Linked DNA regions of Homo sapiens: region 2 is linked to region 1. The links come from fine-mapping of genetic effects on gene expression. Tissue or cell type: whole blood. Region 1 holds a variant in brackets; the other region holds the start of a gene. All regions are shown on one strand. Distances are between the middles of the regions. Region 1 has its middle 36 kb from the start of CDC42EP3. Region 2 holds the start of CDC42EP3 (CDC42 effector protein 3).

Evidence for each region. PIP is the estimated chance that this variant, and not a neighbour inherited with it, causes the effect.
Region 2: CDC42EP3 starts here. The variant in region 1 is fine-mapped to the expression of CDC42EP3 in whole blood (TOPMed, PIP above 0.99).

Annotation. Positions count from the first base shown.
Region 1 is chr2:37,631,289-37,639,622 of GRCh38, reverse strand. No RefSeq gene overlaps it. Among named protein-coding and RNA genes, the nearest start is that of CDC42EP3, 36 kb to the left of the region's middle. RefSeq lists enhancers at 3,730-3,959, 5,492-5,561, 5,582-5,781. The variant T/G (reference allele first, on the strand shown) is at 4,049.
Region 2 is chr2:37,666,519-37,674,852 of GRCh38, reverse strand. CDC42EP3 (CDC42 effector protein 3) reads left to right here and starts at 3,211. Exons shown (of 2, transcript NM_006449.5): 1 at 3,211-3,427. RefSeq lists silencers at 2,233-2,402, 2,623-2,692, 2,703-2,762, 2,933-3,422.

The DNA of each region.
Region 1 (8,334 bases):
CTTTTTCTATTAGGCATGGAGTCCCCTTAGAATAATTCCAGGAGTAACAACATCTGCAAGCCACCAACAGTGAAAAGTGAACTCACTTATCAGATGCCCACTGTGGGAGCACAAGTCTCTAGCAACTGGCCTGGGACCAGGTAGCAAGAGAGACCAGGAAAAACATGAAGAGTGAGTTCATGTAATGCATAATTTTGCCTGGGACCAAAGAAAAATGGGCAGTGATGAGCTTTTCTGAGAGATTTACCTGAGAGCAAATGTGGCCTTCACCAGAAGAGATAATGAAGGTTATTGTTGGCCGGTCTCCCTAGTGCCAGAAGATCACTTGTAATTAAACCTAATTTTGAATCAACCAAATTAGATGGTACAGGAGATTAATATAAAACTCTCCATAACTGACATGTTTCCATACACCCTACAGGCCAGAAGGCTTCAAGACAGTAATGCCTTCGATGCCAAATGCTCATGTTTCTAAGTCACTGTCTGGTCTTTCCTCTGCCTCATCCCCCACTCTTAACAGTAGCATCTTAATGACATGATTGCATTGAGGAGATTATTATTTTCTCCTGACATCTCCTTTATAAGTTCTTTCTGCGTTGTAAGGTAAACCATTAGCAATGCCCCAGAAACAGATGAAACTTCAAAAGGCTTGAAACGACATTAAAAATTACATATTGAGTTTTTCAGAATAAGCAGTAATGTTCAGACACAACTTTGTACCGTAAGCAGGGGCATTGTTAAAAGTAGGAAAAGGAAATTGGTAATTATCTTCCAAACCTGACTCCCATTTCATGAAAATGAAATTGGGATGGGACTAGAAGCAAGAAACAAAACACCTGTGGTGCTCTGGAAGATTTTTCCACCATAAATGGCAAGAAGGAAGAACAGACAAACACAATCTTAGATTAGCAGCCAATAAAGTCCTCCCATCCTAGTACCAGATCATGGCTCCTATGACTAAATAAAGCACTATTTGTGAAGCTTCAGTAATCGCCCTCTTTTTAAAAAAAAAATATAAAGAGGTAGGTTCACCGTTGATTAAAATTGCTCATTTTCAATACATCTGGCACTCTGGACTTCACAAACATGTTGACTATTCATCAGGTACCTTAGGTAACTGAGAGGAAAAATTGTAAAAGTGTCACGATAGCAAAACACAAGAAGCAGACCTGGTTGTATAAGTCCAGGGAAAATGGGACCTTCTTACCAGAGCCCACACTCCTGAAGACTCTTCTAACCAGAAGTAAACAAAGTATTCAAAGTGAAATGGCTTCCGGGAGTGGGATGCCCACCCCTCTTAACCAGCCATGAGATAAAAATGCATGGGAGAAACTTCTTCCAACCCCTGGATCATCTGAAACCTCACCTCCCCAGGGAGACTCCTTGGCTCCCTAGTCCCCAGCCCCTCCCCTCAGGCGAAGGTCATGTGGGAGGACAGAGCCAAGGCTCTAGATTATGGTATGAAGGGTGTGATCTTGTCTGAACACACCCAGCAAAAACATCTTTGTGTCTCCTGCCCTTGCAACAAGGGCTCTTTTTGTAGGTCAGCTGTTAAACATCAAATGATACATCATTTGTTTAAACATCAAATGATATATTATGAACAATACTCCTGTGGCTGGTGGAATAATGGCCCCCAAGATAGGAGATTCTAATGTCTGGAACTTATAAATGTCACCTTATTTGGTAAAAGGGGCCTTACAGATATGATTAAGTTAAGGATCTTGAGATGGGGCATTAGTCTGGATTATCTGGGTGGACCCTAAATGCAATCACGATTGTCCCTATAAGAGAGAGGCAAAGGGAAATTTGACCAGAAGAGGAGTAGACAATGTGACCACAGAGGATGGATTGATGCATCCAGAAATCAAGGAATGCTGCCAGCCACCAAAAAGTGAAAAAGGCAAGGGACAGATTTCCCCCTAGAGCCTCTGGAGGGAGTACAGCCTTGCTGACAGCTTGATTTCGGCCCAGTGACACCGATTTCAGACTTCTGGCCTCTAGAACTGTGAGACAATAAATTTCTGTTGTTTATAGCCACCAAGTTTTTAGTAATTTGCTAAAGCAATTATAGGAAACTGATGCAATACCCAAGCACTGGAGAGAATACAGAAAAATGGAAAACGTTAAGGATAATGAGGTGGACTGAACTGTGTTCCCTTAAAATTCATATGTTGAAGCCCTAACCCTCAGTGTGACTATATTTGGAGCTAAAGCCTTTGAAGAAGTAATTAAGGCTGAATGAGCTCATAAGGGTGGGACCCTAATTGGATAGGACTCACGTCCTTATAAAAAGGGGAAGAGACATTAGGGATGCACACACACAGATGAAAGGCCATGGGAGGACACAACAAGAAGGTGGCCATCTGCAAGCCAAAGAAAGAGGTCTCAGGAGAAACCAAACCTGCTGGCACCTTGATCTTGATCTCCAAAACTGTGAGACAATTAGTTTCTGTTGTTTAAGTCACGCAGTTCATGGTACTGGCAACTGCAGCCCTAGCCAACTAATACAGAGGGTTAACAGGGAAGACCCCCTTGAAGAGTTAGGTTCTTTAAGGAGATAAGGCCAGGATGACCCCACTTCCCAGGACTTTAGTCTTCCCTTAAGGAGTTTACACTGATTTAGTGGTGCTCTGGCTGGTGACAAGGAAGAGGAGAACATTCCAGGCAAAGGATCAGCAGGAGAAAAGTCTAGCCCTGCATTAACATTACAAGAAAGCATCTCCCACTACCAGAGCACAAGAGAAAGCTGCTTTCATGTGGCACAGGTTCAAGCAGGGTAACAGTGTCTAATCAGACACAGGTGTGTTGCCTGAGCCCAGAGGCTAAGTAGACTACCTTTAGGAGGGTCACTGTCACTCACAGTTGATCACTGGGGCATAACTTTAATCAAGCGTATGCATGGTGGGCAGACTTAGGGGAGACGGGGGGAAATAAAATATTTAAAACATGTTTTGAGGCTTGTTTCCAGCCCCAGACAGCATTTGATATGGGCAGAGGCCAGATTCAATCCCTGTCATCCAGATAACAACAAAAGAGAGGCAGAAAAGACTGTAGAGAGGATGCTTCATTGTTGCTAGGGAGATTGTCTTCCAGGAGCTCTTTGCCTAAGAAGTGTTTCTTCCACACAGATGCCAGGCAAAGTTAAATAGGCCTTCCCAGTATGCAGAGGGCAAATTGAACAAGAGGCCAGAGAGTTTGCTGAGACCCAACAGTGATGCGGGGGGCGTTTAAATACCATTCAGGAAGCCAAGTGACAGAGAGACAGCCAATGTGCTGGAGGTGGGGCCCCATCAGGCAGTGCTTCCCATATCATGACAAAGAAAATTATGACATTGGGACAGCACCATGGGGAAATGAAAGGGCTGTTGTGGCTGGCCTGGGCCCCACCTACCTGCCACAGGTGCTGAGGGTACAATGCCTCAGTGTCCTCATAGCACATTTGACACCTAAGGTTTGTATTGTGGGAAGCCTCTCCTCAGAGTACATCATCTCACTGGCCCCTGGCTATTTACGGGACTACCCTGTAGCTCTCCTGAGGGCTCCGAGTCCTCTCTGAAGGCACAAGTGGGTGAAGGAGTGGGGATACCAAATGTCGCACCATGTGAGACATGACTGCCCTGGTGGCAGTGGGGGTGGCAGTGAGTGGGGCACAGCAAATCCTCCACCTCTAACAGGGGTGATGTGGTTTGGCTACATCCCCAGCCAAATCTCATCTTGAATTGTAGTTCCCGTAATCCCCACGTGTCATGGGAGGGACCCAGCAGGAGATAATTGAATCATGGGGGCAGTTACCCTCATGTTGTTCTCATGATAGTGAGTTCTCACAAGATCTGATGTTTTTATATAAGGGGTTTTCCCCCTTTGCACTTCTCTCTCCTGCTGCCACGTGAAGGACATGTTTGCTTCCGCTTCTGCCATGACCATAAGTTTCCTGAGGCAACCCCAGTCCTGCAGAACTATGAGTCAATTCAACCTCTTTCCTTTATAAATTACCCAGTCTCGGGTATTGCTTCATAGCAGTATGAGAACAGACTGACACAAGAGG[T/G]GAATAAACCCAGAGCAAACCCAGAAAGGCCTGGGAGCCCCAGGAGCCAACTGGTGATTTAAGAAAGAGCAGAAGTGTTCAGTGTGACAGAGATAAGAGAAGGAGTAGAACTGAGACTCTGCCTCTGACTACATGACAACAGTCTTTACCAGTCTCACTGACTGGGGGCTTCTGCAGAGAATATGCTCGAGTCCCTACCTCTGAAAAACAAACACAGCCCTGCCTCAAAAACGTGAGCCACTTCCACAACCTCGAAAGGGGCATTTACACCAATGTCTCCATTTGCTCACCTCACATTCACTGAGTCACTTTCCTCCAGATCTACTGCCACCGTTCACTGAAGCTGCGCTCAGCAGTCACCAATGAACCACCTTCCTAAAGTCACAGATGTTCCCCACCCTACCTCCCTTTCTTCTCTTCTCTGCAGCACTTGACTCTCCAGGGCACTGCTGCTCCTCTCACTCCCTTCTCTCTGGTTTTCCTTCTCTCCCACCAACTACACCACTGTGAATCCTTCCCGGTTCTTCTTCGACTACTGACCCCATTGCTACCACGCACCCTAGGGTCATTCTCATTCTTCTGTTTGGTGATGTCTTGTTTCAGAGCTTCAACTGCCATCTATTTTCTGATGACTCCCACATCTCTATCTCCTGCCCAAATACAACTCCTGGGCTTCAGACCTGAATATCCAGATGAGCCCTGGACATCTCTGCTTGTTTGGCCTGCCAGAACCCCAAATTTACCATATTTCAAATCAAGTTCACCACCAACAAAAATATGCTTCCATCCTCCTTCTCCTGTGCTTGTGAGTGACAATACCATCCAGCCAGCTTCTCAGGACAAAACCCGGGAAGTGACTCCTTTTTCCACACAACCCTCTTCTTTTGCCTCCTAAATATTTCTCATGTCCAATCTCTTTTCTCCAATCCCACTGCCACTGACTCCATTCAGGCCCTCATCATACCTTGCTTCTATTATATAGCAACAGCTTCCTAACTATTTCACTGTCTTTAGAATGACCCCTGCCAATGTTTTTCCTTTTTAATTTTGAGTGATGGGCTCTAAAAATATTTTTTAGATACTATATTTTAAAAAATATTTTAAGCTTCTCTAACTGAACATCTAAACCCATAAAGTCCCTAATTAACAACCTTCAGAAACTCTCCTTTACCATACAAAGCCCAAATTCCTAAACAGGTATACAAGGCCCTCCATGAACTGTTTGTGCTAGTGGCACAACCTGGATGTAAAATCCAATGAATAAATGAAAGTCAAATACTCACTCTGCCCAACACCCTAATATGAATTAGGAATTCAATTCCACAAAGAAGGTGGAATTGAATCTATGCTGCTAAGGGTAAAGTGGGTTAGCTGTATTAGTCTGTTCTCATGCTGCTAATGGAGCAACATAACAGAGACTAGATAGTTGATTAAATATACAGGAAAGAGGTTTAATTGACTCACACTTCTGCAGGGCTGGGGAGGCCTCAGGAAAGAGAATCACGGCAGAAATGGAAGCAAACACACCCTTCTTCACATGGTGGCAGCAAGAAGAAGTGCAGAGAGAAGGAGGGGAAAAGCCCCTATAAAACCATCAGATCTCATGAGAACTTACTATCACGAGAACAGCATGCAGGTAAACACCACCATGATTCGATTACCTCCCACTGGGTCCCTCCCATGACACATGGGGATTATGGGAACTACAATTCAAGATAAGATTTGGGTAGGGACACGGTCAAACCATATCAGAGGAGGAAAGAAGATAAGCATCCTTGCTCCTGATTGGGGCACTTCATTCAGAACTTCTTCCTTTAAAATGCAACTTTCTTAGAACAGAGATCACTTCTCTCTTTTTCCTTCCTGGCAGCTGATAGGATAAGATTGGATGGAGGCCTCCTTATGGTTGGAAAGCGGCATCCTCTTTTTTCCCTCTGTTAGAAAACCAAGCAGGAACCAGGTAGAGTCCAGGAGAGAACATCCAAAGATGGATGTCATCTCAATTGCTTCCGAGTTCAGAGGAGGCAAAGGGTTCTTACATCTTGCCCACAGATTGACCCAAGTTCATGACCTGGAACAGGCACTTTTGTGAGGTGTCAAGGACAAAGCCCTAGCTGGTAATAAACAGCATGTTCTTATCCTGGAGTATTCCTCAGGAAATTACTGTGGTAGCAGGAAACCAGACAGGATTTGGGTTTTTAAAACCTTGCCTATCTTATCTTTGTAGATGTGACTAACTAGTAGGTCTTCAAACTGCCCCCAAGTAGGCATAAACCTTTGGGTCACCCAACATTATACTGGCTCTCCTAAAAAAAAAACATGTTATGTAGCCCTAATAACCTAGAGCTCCATGGGGACTGATCTCAGTGCAGTTACAGTGAAAAAACAAACAAATCAAGATGTAGCAACAAAGAAGAATTAAAGCATTTAGAATATTTATATTCTTCTCTTAAAGAACTCCAAAGAAAATCCAATTCATAATCCATAGCTCTGCTAGAATTTTCCTGGGGGGTATGGGGAAGAAGAGGAAGAGGGGCTATGAAGACTTATGCATTAATCTTTTTTATCTATTGTATTGCATAATAAATTTGTCTATAATCACAAAGAAGGTCTTTGCCTTAAGTCCTTATTCCCTCTCACAGTTATTGTAAGAGCCTCTGATTCCAATAGTGCCCACTCTTAAGTCACCACCCTGACTAAAGGTCCTTATGAGGTCTCCATAGCTAGGAGACAAAGTCCAAACAAAGTCTTGAAAATGGCACTCAAGTCCCTTCGCCTTCTGGCCTCAATCTACACATCCCACGTTACTTATGCCACCAGCCACACACATTTAGCTTCCCCCTCATTTACCATTGCAGAACTCCCCAAATACCCGTCTTTTCAGCCTTTCTGTCTTTGCATGAACTCCTTTTTTACTAACCCGTTAAAACCTCTGTCACCTTCTCTGTGAAGCCTGTGTTAGAATCAGTTGTTCTCTCCTCTTGGGCTGCACTGCACTTTGCAGAGGTCCCACTATTCAGTGGGTCCCCCACAGTGATACAATCAAGTCCATCCTCCTGGTGAGAGGGCACATTCCTCCAACCTGACTCCCAGCCCAGCACAGAAGCTATTGCTGAATGAAGGATGAAAGAATGAATAAACAGATAAAAAGCAGAGACTAAAATTAATGCTTACCAAAAACTAATTTTTTTTATTAGTCCACAAGAAATGGCTTATCAGTAGTCTTTACCAGGTACAAGAAATGCCATAAATTCTGAAAAAGAGTTTTGAGAAAAGAACAAAGTACTATATATTTTGCCAGTGTATTAAAATGATAGAGACTAATAGGACTGAAACATTTTTAAGAAATATATACTTACAAATATGTCTATGGATCTGGATTATTTTTCCATATTTACAAGTTTTAGTTATTTACCTTATAAAAGAAAATAGCCCTATAGAAAGTTATTATCATTTGCTTCAATAAGATACAGCCATTATAGGCTTTTAAAATGTTGTTTGCTTAAAGGACGAGAATGTGATTTGGCTCCTGCAAGCACTTAAGAGTTCTGAACAAGCCTAAACAAACATTTTTAATCAGTGTTAGTGCTTTAAGAAATTTTTAATCTGCCACTTAAGAGACACTAATGTACAAATTGGCAAAAAAGAAAATAAAAACCTGTCACCTTTCCCACACATTATCTAAATGTGCTAAAGCAAATGCATTTCAGATACCCTGCCCTGCTGTGCATGAACACATAATAGGATAGGACGTCATCAGTGACTGAGCGTATCTCCTAATTGGTGTCATCAGCTATTTCTAGGACAGCCAAATAGTGTCAGAGATAAAGAAATATAAATTATCTGTGAAAACAAAGAGGTACGACATGTAAAAATTGGATGTAGTACCTCCTGATCCAAAACAAAAAAATGGATCTTAGGCTACCCAAATATTTTTAAATGATATAAAATGTTATTTTAGGTCAATAGCTTTCTATAGTCAGAATGTGGACATACGGGGATGAATTATGCCTGGCACCCCCAGTTATCTCATCCAATGCTGCAGCTGTCACAAACCACAGGACACTTGATCCATAGGCCAGTAAAGAATCAAGTTCTAACCACAGACACTCAAGAGCGCACAACAAGGCATCTAAAAGAATTTCCACTTGTGCCATTCTGGGCATCTTGATGTCCTTAGCATACTGTAACCTGATTATCCAGACAAGATTGAGAATGAAAGCAAGTAATCCTGGACTGACTCTCCTGTATCACATATGTAGCCCTCTATTTGGTGAGTATAGTTA
Region 2 (8,334 bases), 35 kb before region 1:
AAGGACATTCTCTTTTTCCCTCTCAGGACCTTTGCATTTCAACAGCTTGAAATGCTCTTCTTTACTCCTCTTCCTATCAAATTCCCCAGGTTTAATTTAAGCTCTGCCCCCTGTGAGAATCTTCTCTTAACTCCTCCAGCTGACACTGAGTCAATCTTCTTTGTGACTAGGGGGTCTTAACCTAGGACTTCCCTGGCATCAATAGATTATTTACAGGAACTCTGAAACTGCATATGAAAAATTTTGTGTATCAATCAATATGCTTTTCCAAGGGTGCTCATAAATCCCATGAGATTTTCAAATGAGTTTGTAGCTTTGAAAGGTGGAGAACCACCAAGCACTCATGGACGGTGCTTCTCAAACATTAAATCTGCACGCAAACTATCCACATTTCATTAGACTGAAGATTCCAACTTGGTAGCCCTGGAGTGAGGCTTGGTGCTGCTGGTCCTGGGACCATACTTGGTAGCAAGAGACTAGAATGTGGTCAGCATTTGCTTGTGTACACTGGCAAGGTGCTCTCTGCACTTAGGTAGATCACAGGTTTCTGGACAGCAAGGGCACTGACAATACTACTTGGCTTTTCTCCCAAGTAGGGACTAATAGAAAAACAGCCCACTGTTGGGCCTGACAGGTGGTCTACAGATACCAGGCTTCTAAGGTTACCACCAAATGTTTTTAAGGCTAAACCTTTCCAAAATTCACAGCAGAATCTCAAAACTCCTAAAATCTTCCTGAAGCAAAGCTTTTTCCTCTCTTCCGGTAGTAGACTCCCATAACATGTTGAAACCTAAATCCATCAACTCTACAAGCTATCATAGTTAGCACAGGAAATGCACTCATTTGGAAGAATAATTCACTATATGAGGGATCAGTTACTCACTGAAGATGTTCAGTACAAAGAAATAACGTGAGGCACAGGGCATGGTGGCTCATGCCTGTAATCCCAGCACTTTCGGAGGCTGAGGCAGAAGGATCACTTGAGGCCAGGAGTTTGAGACCCTGGGGGAAAAAAAAAAAAAAGGAAAGGAAGGGAAGGGGAGGGGAGGGAAGCGGAGGGGTGGGGAGGGGAGGGCAGGGGAGGGGTGGGGAGGCGAGGCCAAAGGAGCCAAGATAAATCAAACCACCAGGCCCTTGAATGAGCAGGTCCTGGATAACTGTTTAGAGTCCAGCAGTGAAGTCTCATTTAAAAACGGCAGAGGGAGAGAAAGCCTCTAAAAGGCAAGGGATAATGTAGAAAAGTAAAAATAGGTTTTAGAATAAAAATGCCGTTTCAGACAAACTGCCACTCTATATTTGCAAAAACTGTAAAAGAAGTTATTTATTTGGCCATGTAGAAATAAAGTGCTTTTAACAGCAGCTAACAATAGATCACGTGAAAAAAATTACATACAAGACATGTGTGTCGGGAATGTCTTTATGTGTTCAAAAGGAATTTTGCATGTGGTATTTTATATATATACACATATTATTTGGACTTATAAAATACCCTATGTAATGAAAACTATGCATAAATATTTATAAAAATACCTTTTTCTAAGTAGGCCAGGAACATTTAATATTTTTCAATAAATTAATATATAAAATATATACATTAGTGCCAAATGGAACATATATTTTGAAATATGAAACCCAAGTAAAATGCTCAGGAATCTGGAGTAGAATCCAGGTATCTGCCAAAGGAAACTTTGGACGAGTTGTCTTTTGAAGAAGGGAAACAATGCTGGGTCTCTTATCTTCACGGACTGTTTTTGCTTGTCAAACTTCTAACATCACTTCAGCCGAGTTTCGTATTTGACTTCCAACCTCATGGCCATTTGACCTGCCAACTACTATTTTTCTTTGAGGCTTTTAACACCCCACCCAAGTATTTTGCTTTCCAGATTGTGTGCGTTTCCTTTTCACTTCACCTTAAAGTCAGCCTGGGTTTACAACATCGGCTTAAGGCGCACCCTCTAAGGTTTCAGACAGACCCAGGGCACCGCGGTGATGACCTGAAGCTGATATCTCTCGGCAAAGCCAAGGTATCCGGGAGGTTCTCCGCGTTGTGCCAGGATTTCCATCCAACCCGAGAGTCTCAGGGCAGAGGCCAGGCCCCCAGCGTCCGACTCCCAGGGGTCCCAGCCCCCTCCCCTGGCTGACCATGCGGGCTGGGACCTCCCAGCCGGAAAACACCGCCCTTTCCTGTCGCCTACTCCTTCCCCAGGCCGACGACTCGCGGAGGAGGAAGAGACGGAGGCCGATTAAGAAAATTAGCATTCATTAACCCGGTTCACGCTCCGGCCCCGGCGGAGGGGAGGGGCGCGCCGGGCGGCGGCGCTGGCGGTGGCCGGGTGACCGGCGGGCGCAGGTGCCACCGCGGCCTGAATTTTACTCTCTCGGGCCGGCAGCTGCGCCACTTGCGCCTCGTCGCGCGTCTGGGGCAGCCGCCACCGGCTTGCCCCAGCTTTAGGCAAATCCTTTTGAAAGACCCTGAGGGAGAAGAAACGCCTCCCTCTGGGTAGGAGAACCTGTAGCGTCTGCTGTTCGTCGCGTGTCCAGTTGCTCAGCCGGGAGCTCCGGCATCTTCAGGGCGCTTATTCCACTCTCCGGGTTTTGGCTGCAGCTCTGAGGGGAGCGAGCTAGAAACTGACAGAACGCGACCCTCCCCCTCCGCGCCCACCGGAGCCCGGGCTGAGAGGGACCTGGGGAGCTGCGGCCTGGCCGGGGCGGCGCACTCAGGTGGCCTCGCTTCCCTGCGGGTCACCGCCCGCCACTCGCACAGCTAGGTCGGCCTGTTGGGATCGGGAGAGGTGGGCGCACGAGTTTTAGTGCGGGAGTCCGGGGTGCGGGCGGAGTCCTATTGTCCCCGTGCACCCGGGCGGCAGCACCTCCGGGTCCCTCTTTAAACCGAGCGTCCGGCGACCTTTCTTTGTGCTTAGGGAGTCGAAAGCGGCATCTTCTCCGAGAGAAGTCGCCTACTGGGGGGTGGCGCTGGGGAGGTAACAATGGGCGCCCATTGTCCTCCGAGGGTCCAACGGTGACCCCCCCCCGCGCGCGCGCCCGGCCACCGGTTGGCCCCGGGCCAGGGCACAGGTACCGCGGCTGGGAGGGTCGGCCCCGCTGCCCGCGCCCTCCGCCCCGCCCCAGTGAGTCCCCGCGCCGCCGGCCCCGCCCCGCGCCGCCCCGCCCTCCGCAGGTTCAGTCCTCGCGTCCGGCCGCCCCGCGCTCAGTCGCGCGCACCTTCTCTCGCGGCCGGGGGACCGCAGCGCGGGGCTAGCCCGGAGACCCGGCCACCGGCCTGGGGCGCCTTCACGCCGTCTCGGAGCGGATAATGCGGTGAGCAGGCACCACGCCGGCAGACTCGGCTGGATCTGCGCACAGCGGCAGGGATTGCGTGCGCCCGCGGGAGGCCCGGGGCAGCGGCTGGGATCCTCAGCGGCGGCCGGTGAGTCGGGGCAGCCCAGGGCTCCTTCCTCTCTACCTGTCTGTGAGTCTGTCCCGCCCGCGGCCGTGGCCGCTTCCGGCGTGCGCTGGTGTTAGGCTGGGAAACCAGCAGGGAGTCGGGATACCCAGGGCATCGCTTTCCCATCTAGTGTCCAACGGAACGAAGGGGACATAAAGCAAGCCAGGAGGGGGTCCGGCGGCACGACCAGGACTCAGAGCTCCACCATTTGTGCCCACTACTTTTCAGGGTGGGGCTGCGCGGCCACATTGCACCCTCCGAGCTATTGGCAGAGCCATTCTGGGCGCGTATAGCATTTTTCCATCTGAGAACAAGCCGCGCTTGGCTACCGCGCCCCTCGCATCATGGATTGGTACCAGGGCCGCACATGGGTGCATCGCACAGCTCTGCCGTGGCATCGCCTGCCCGGTGCCCTCCTCTTTCTTAATGGAGGACATTGTTAGTGGGGCGCCAACCTGCAGATCTGGATATTGACTTTTTTGTTTTTTGACGGTGAACAGCTGAGACGTTTACAAGGTTTTTTGTTTTTTGTTTTCTTCCCTTTCTCCTTGAAACTAAGTGGCTTGACACAGACAAGTATCAGACATGTGAGGATGAATGGATCTGGCCATTTTTTCGTTATGAATTATTATACTCTATCCCTCTCTCGACTTTGGGAGGCATGTGTTTCATCTTATAAATAGAAAGTAGCATATTTTTGGGCAGGATCTCCTTTATACTGTGCAGTCTAGGAGAGGTCAGTTTAAAAATAAATATGCACTTGAATGTTACATTACTGAGAGCCAGGCTGTGGCTGGGACAAGCTGCGTGGACAGCAGCATCAAAGCCGGGAGCGCAGCTGTGTTGAAAGGAGTAAAAGCCCCAGAGTGCAGCCTAGGCTGACAGTCAAGTAATTACATTTTGTTTAAAAAAAAAAAAAAAAAAAGTGAGCGAATTAAAATGAGGAATGTCAGGAGGGTATTGCAACATGAATCTTTCCAGCCCTGGCGTATTTGGAGGAGTGGGCTGCTGCTGTGTGCTGAGGTTGTAGGGGGGCTCTAGGGAGGGAACTGATGAATGTGTTAGGGAGACAAAGATTCCATCCCCATCTCCCAGCTCTTAATTCTCACAATATCCAAGAGTTTCTTGGGAGTACTGCCTTTTAAAAGGAACAAAAATTAGGAGAGCAGCAGATGTCTGTATTTTAATAGCAAAGCCAGTTTTAGGGACTTCCTGTTAACATCACAGGGAGAAAAAAGACTCACCAGGAACCAGCGATGATGCCCCAAAGGTATCCCTAAGACAATTTAAAAGGCTCCTGTAATGTTCTAATTTACACAAGCTCTTTCATCTTAAAACCAGGAAATGTACCTTCTCTTCTTTTCTGGACAGTTCCAGAAGTCTACTCTTTCATACCCCCTGCAATTTGTGTGAGCTCTTATTGGTAGTTAATAAGCTACACAGGTATGTGTGTGATGCATACCCTTTTCAGAATAGATTTAGACACTCAGAAATAAGTTGGAGTAGTTGTGAAATATTTAGCATTTTCATATGTGAAATAAATGATAAAGGCCCTTTCTATAGTCAAGGAATGGTTGAAATTCTTCATAAAGTCTCCCAAAGAATGCGGGTTTCCCAATGGGCCTCACCCATTTGAATAAAACAGCACCAGCCTCTGGGCTCACAGATAAGAACTTTAGAGGAGAAATTTGGAAGCATTTCTGGATCCATGGCAGTTTCTGTTTTCCAATGGCATCATCTGCTAGAGATTTACATGATGAATTCTATGATTAGAACATGGTGCTGAGGCTGTGGCAGCAGCTACAGGCTTGAAATGAGATGAGCTCCTCTTTCCCTCAATCTGAGCAGTGAAATTGTTTCACGTATCTCTATGGAACAAGTAAAAGCAGCTAGAGTAATAAGTGTTGCACACTTTTTGCTTTTTATTGCACATTTAAGTGCGGTGCAAGATGAATAAATACAAAGCCGTAACAGTGATTGCAGAAGGGCTCACATGAGTTCATTTGCCCTGTCTGCGCTCCAGCCTTTCCTTTAATGTGGTGTTTTGTTTTATGTCCAACATGCTCACAAAAGCTGTGCTTTTTTCATGTATAAAGTTCCTGGTATTCAACAGTGTTGGGGATAAAATTGCTTTCACCTGTATCACCCAAAGATTTTTTTTTTTTTTTTTTTTTAGCCAGGCCATAGATTTTTCACAAATTCTTTGACCATTAACTGTAACATTTATCCAGTGGGTGGAATATAATTCGTAACCTAAAAACCTCCAAGAAGACTGCTCTGATCGTATTATTATTATTATTATTGTTATTCAGATTCTTGCTTTCAGTCAGATTTTATCTAGGCCCAGTCTCATTTCTTACTAACCAGAATCCTGTGAACCTGTATTTCTTTTCATTGATTGAATGAGAAATCTATTTTTAAATGCAGTATGTTTGCCAGAGAACAAGGATAGCCATTTGAAAATACTGGATTCAGCCAGCCACAAAATCTTGTGTGCCTCACCAAGCCATAGAAGACCAAGAATTTTCCTAATATATTGCATTGTTCATTACTTTGGATGTTAAAAGCACTTCCTAAGTGGAGCCCGTCCTATGTGTCAAGCACTCTTCTCAGCCTTTTGTCTTGATTATCTTACTTGTTTCTAGCAATCATCTAATGAAAGAACCGTTGTATCCCCATTTTGCTGGTGTAGAGACTGAGGATAGACCAGTTATATAACTTACCCAAAGTTGTGCAGTAAGCAAAACCTAAACATGCGTGTGCAGTTTAACAACACAATATGTGCAGGCATGAGTGGCTAATCCTATGTGAAAGTCAGCAGCTCTTTGGGTTAAGGGGATGGGAAAAAAAACTGAACTTCTGAAGCCTCCGAGTCAGGCTGCCTGGGCACATGTCCTAGTTCTGGCACTTAACACCTGTGTGACTTTGGGCAAGTTACCTCACCTTTACCTCAGTTTATCCTTTGTAAAATGGAGATAATATTATTTCCCTGAGGATTAAAGGAGTTAAAAAAGATTATGTACTCAGAACAGTGCCTGGCCCAGAGTAGCCACAATAAAAGGTTGAGGTTTTCAATGTTGCTTTTGTTTTTTTCCTAGGTACTTAATACTGGTTCTGTCATGTAATATTCATAACTATTCTTTGAGAGAGATAGTACAGTGGTCCCCAATTACCCGTGGTTTTCTTTTCCAGGGTTTCAGTTACCCATAGTCAACCATGGTCTGAAAATAGGTGAATATGGGGCATTTTAAGAAAGAAAGAGACCATATTCATGTAATTTTTATTACATTGTTATAATTATTCTATTGTTAATCTCTTACTGTGCCTACTTTACAAATTAAACTTTATAACAGGTATGTATGTATAAAAAACAACATAGTATATATGGGGTTCAGTACTGTCCAAGGTTCAGGCACCCACTGGGGGTCTTGGAACATATCCGTGGAGGATAAGGCAGACTATTATATTGCTCTTCTTTTCCAGATGAGAACACAGGCTCAGAAAGGTTTAGTAACGTGGCCAAGGTCACACAGCTAAATAGCAGAAGCAGGGTTTGAACTCAGGTCTTTTTGACCTTATACTAAATACCACACCCCCACCAATGGGGAGGAGGGGCAGAGAAGTTGTTAAATCTGATTTTTGTTATGACTTTTGGCCTCTGGCAAGGAAATAATTTCATATCACCCTGTATCTCACAGTTGAAGATGACAGTAATTGCCAGCCTTGAGGAACACTATGTAAATTATTTTATTATTAAAGATGATTCAATCCCACATATGTGGCATGAAAGTGGATCTAGCATGAACACTGCTAGGGTTAACATAAGCAGTTTAATTTATGCCATAAACGAAGAGATTTACTAGGTGAAAATGTGGGACTATATGGTGAGAAAGCAAGCCAAGCCACAGCCAGGGACAAGGACTTCTGGTGGCTGGGGATGAAGTGAAGCTCTAGCATAGACTGTGTGCTCGCTTCAAAATTCTGGGGAGCCCGGGGTTGCAGAGTCCAGTAACCACCTGTGGACAATCCCCTCCTTGAAGGCAGGAACCACACTACCTGGGCCTTCAGTCCCGGCACTCAGTGGACGTTTTAGTCCATGTTTGTTGATGATGTTGCTGCAAGAACTCAGCAGAAGAGGAGCTACAGGTAAAGTGAACAGAAAGGCACTGGGCTGTGTCCATGGCAGAAGTCAAGCCCTGTTACAGTTCAGCATATCCCCTGGGCCCTGCTAGATAAGAAACACACAACAAGGAAACCTTTGAAACCTTGTCCTTACTGCTTGCCCCGGAAAACCCACAGGGCCTGCCTTGGCCTCCACTGCTTTGATGCTCTGGGTTTGTGATTAGCTGTGGGGATCAGCTCCAGAGACTTCTCAGATGGAAACAGGGTTCTGGAAAGGACAGTCCGAAGTAACTCAGGTAGCCTCAAAGCCAATGGTTACAGTCTTGGAGCTGTCCAATTCCATTTGAAATCTTCTCCTGTCCCCACCTCTTAAAGGCTACAAAACAAAACAATACCCCACAAACCAGAATAAGTAGCCATGTAGTTCTAAAGCAATAGTCAGGTGTGTTTCTTTCCTTAAAAAAAAAAAAAAGCTTTCTCCTTGATATACTTCAGTGCCAAGTTTCATCAGAATCACATGATGATGGACTGAATTTGACAGTACCTCTGGTAGAAAAGCAGTTTTCAAATTTTAACCATACAGTTTTATAATACAAAGCATGATGCTGAGATTTAAAAGATTACTATTTCTAAATAGCCAAGTAAACTGTGTGAAAGCTGATGAGTTCCAAACTAGTGTTTGCTTAGTCCTTACTGCTTGCCTAAGTCATGAATTAATAGAATTCTAGAATCCCAAATTTAAAACTTTTTAAAAAGGATTTTCAGTG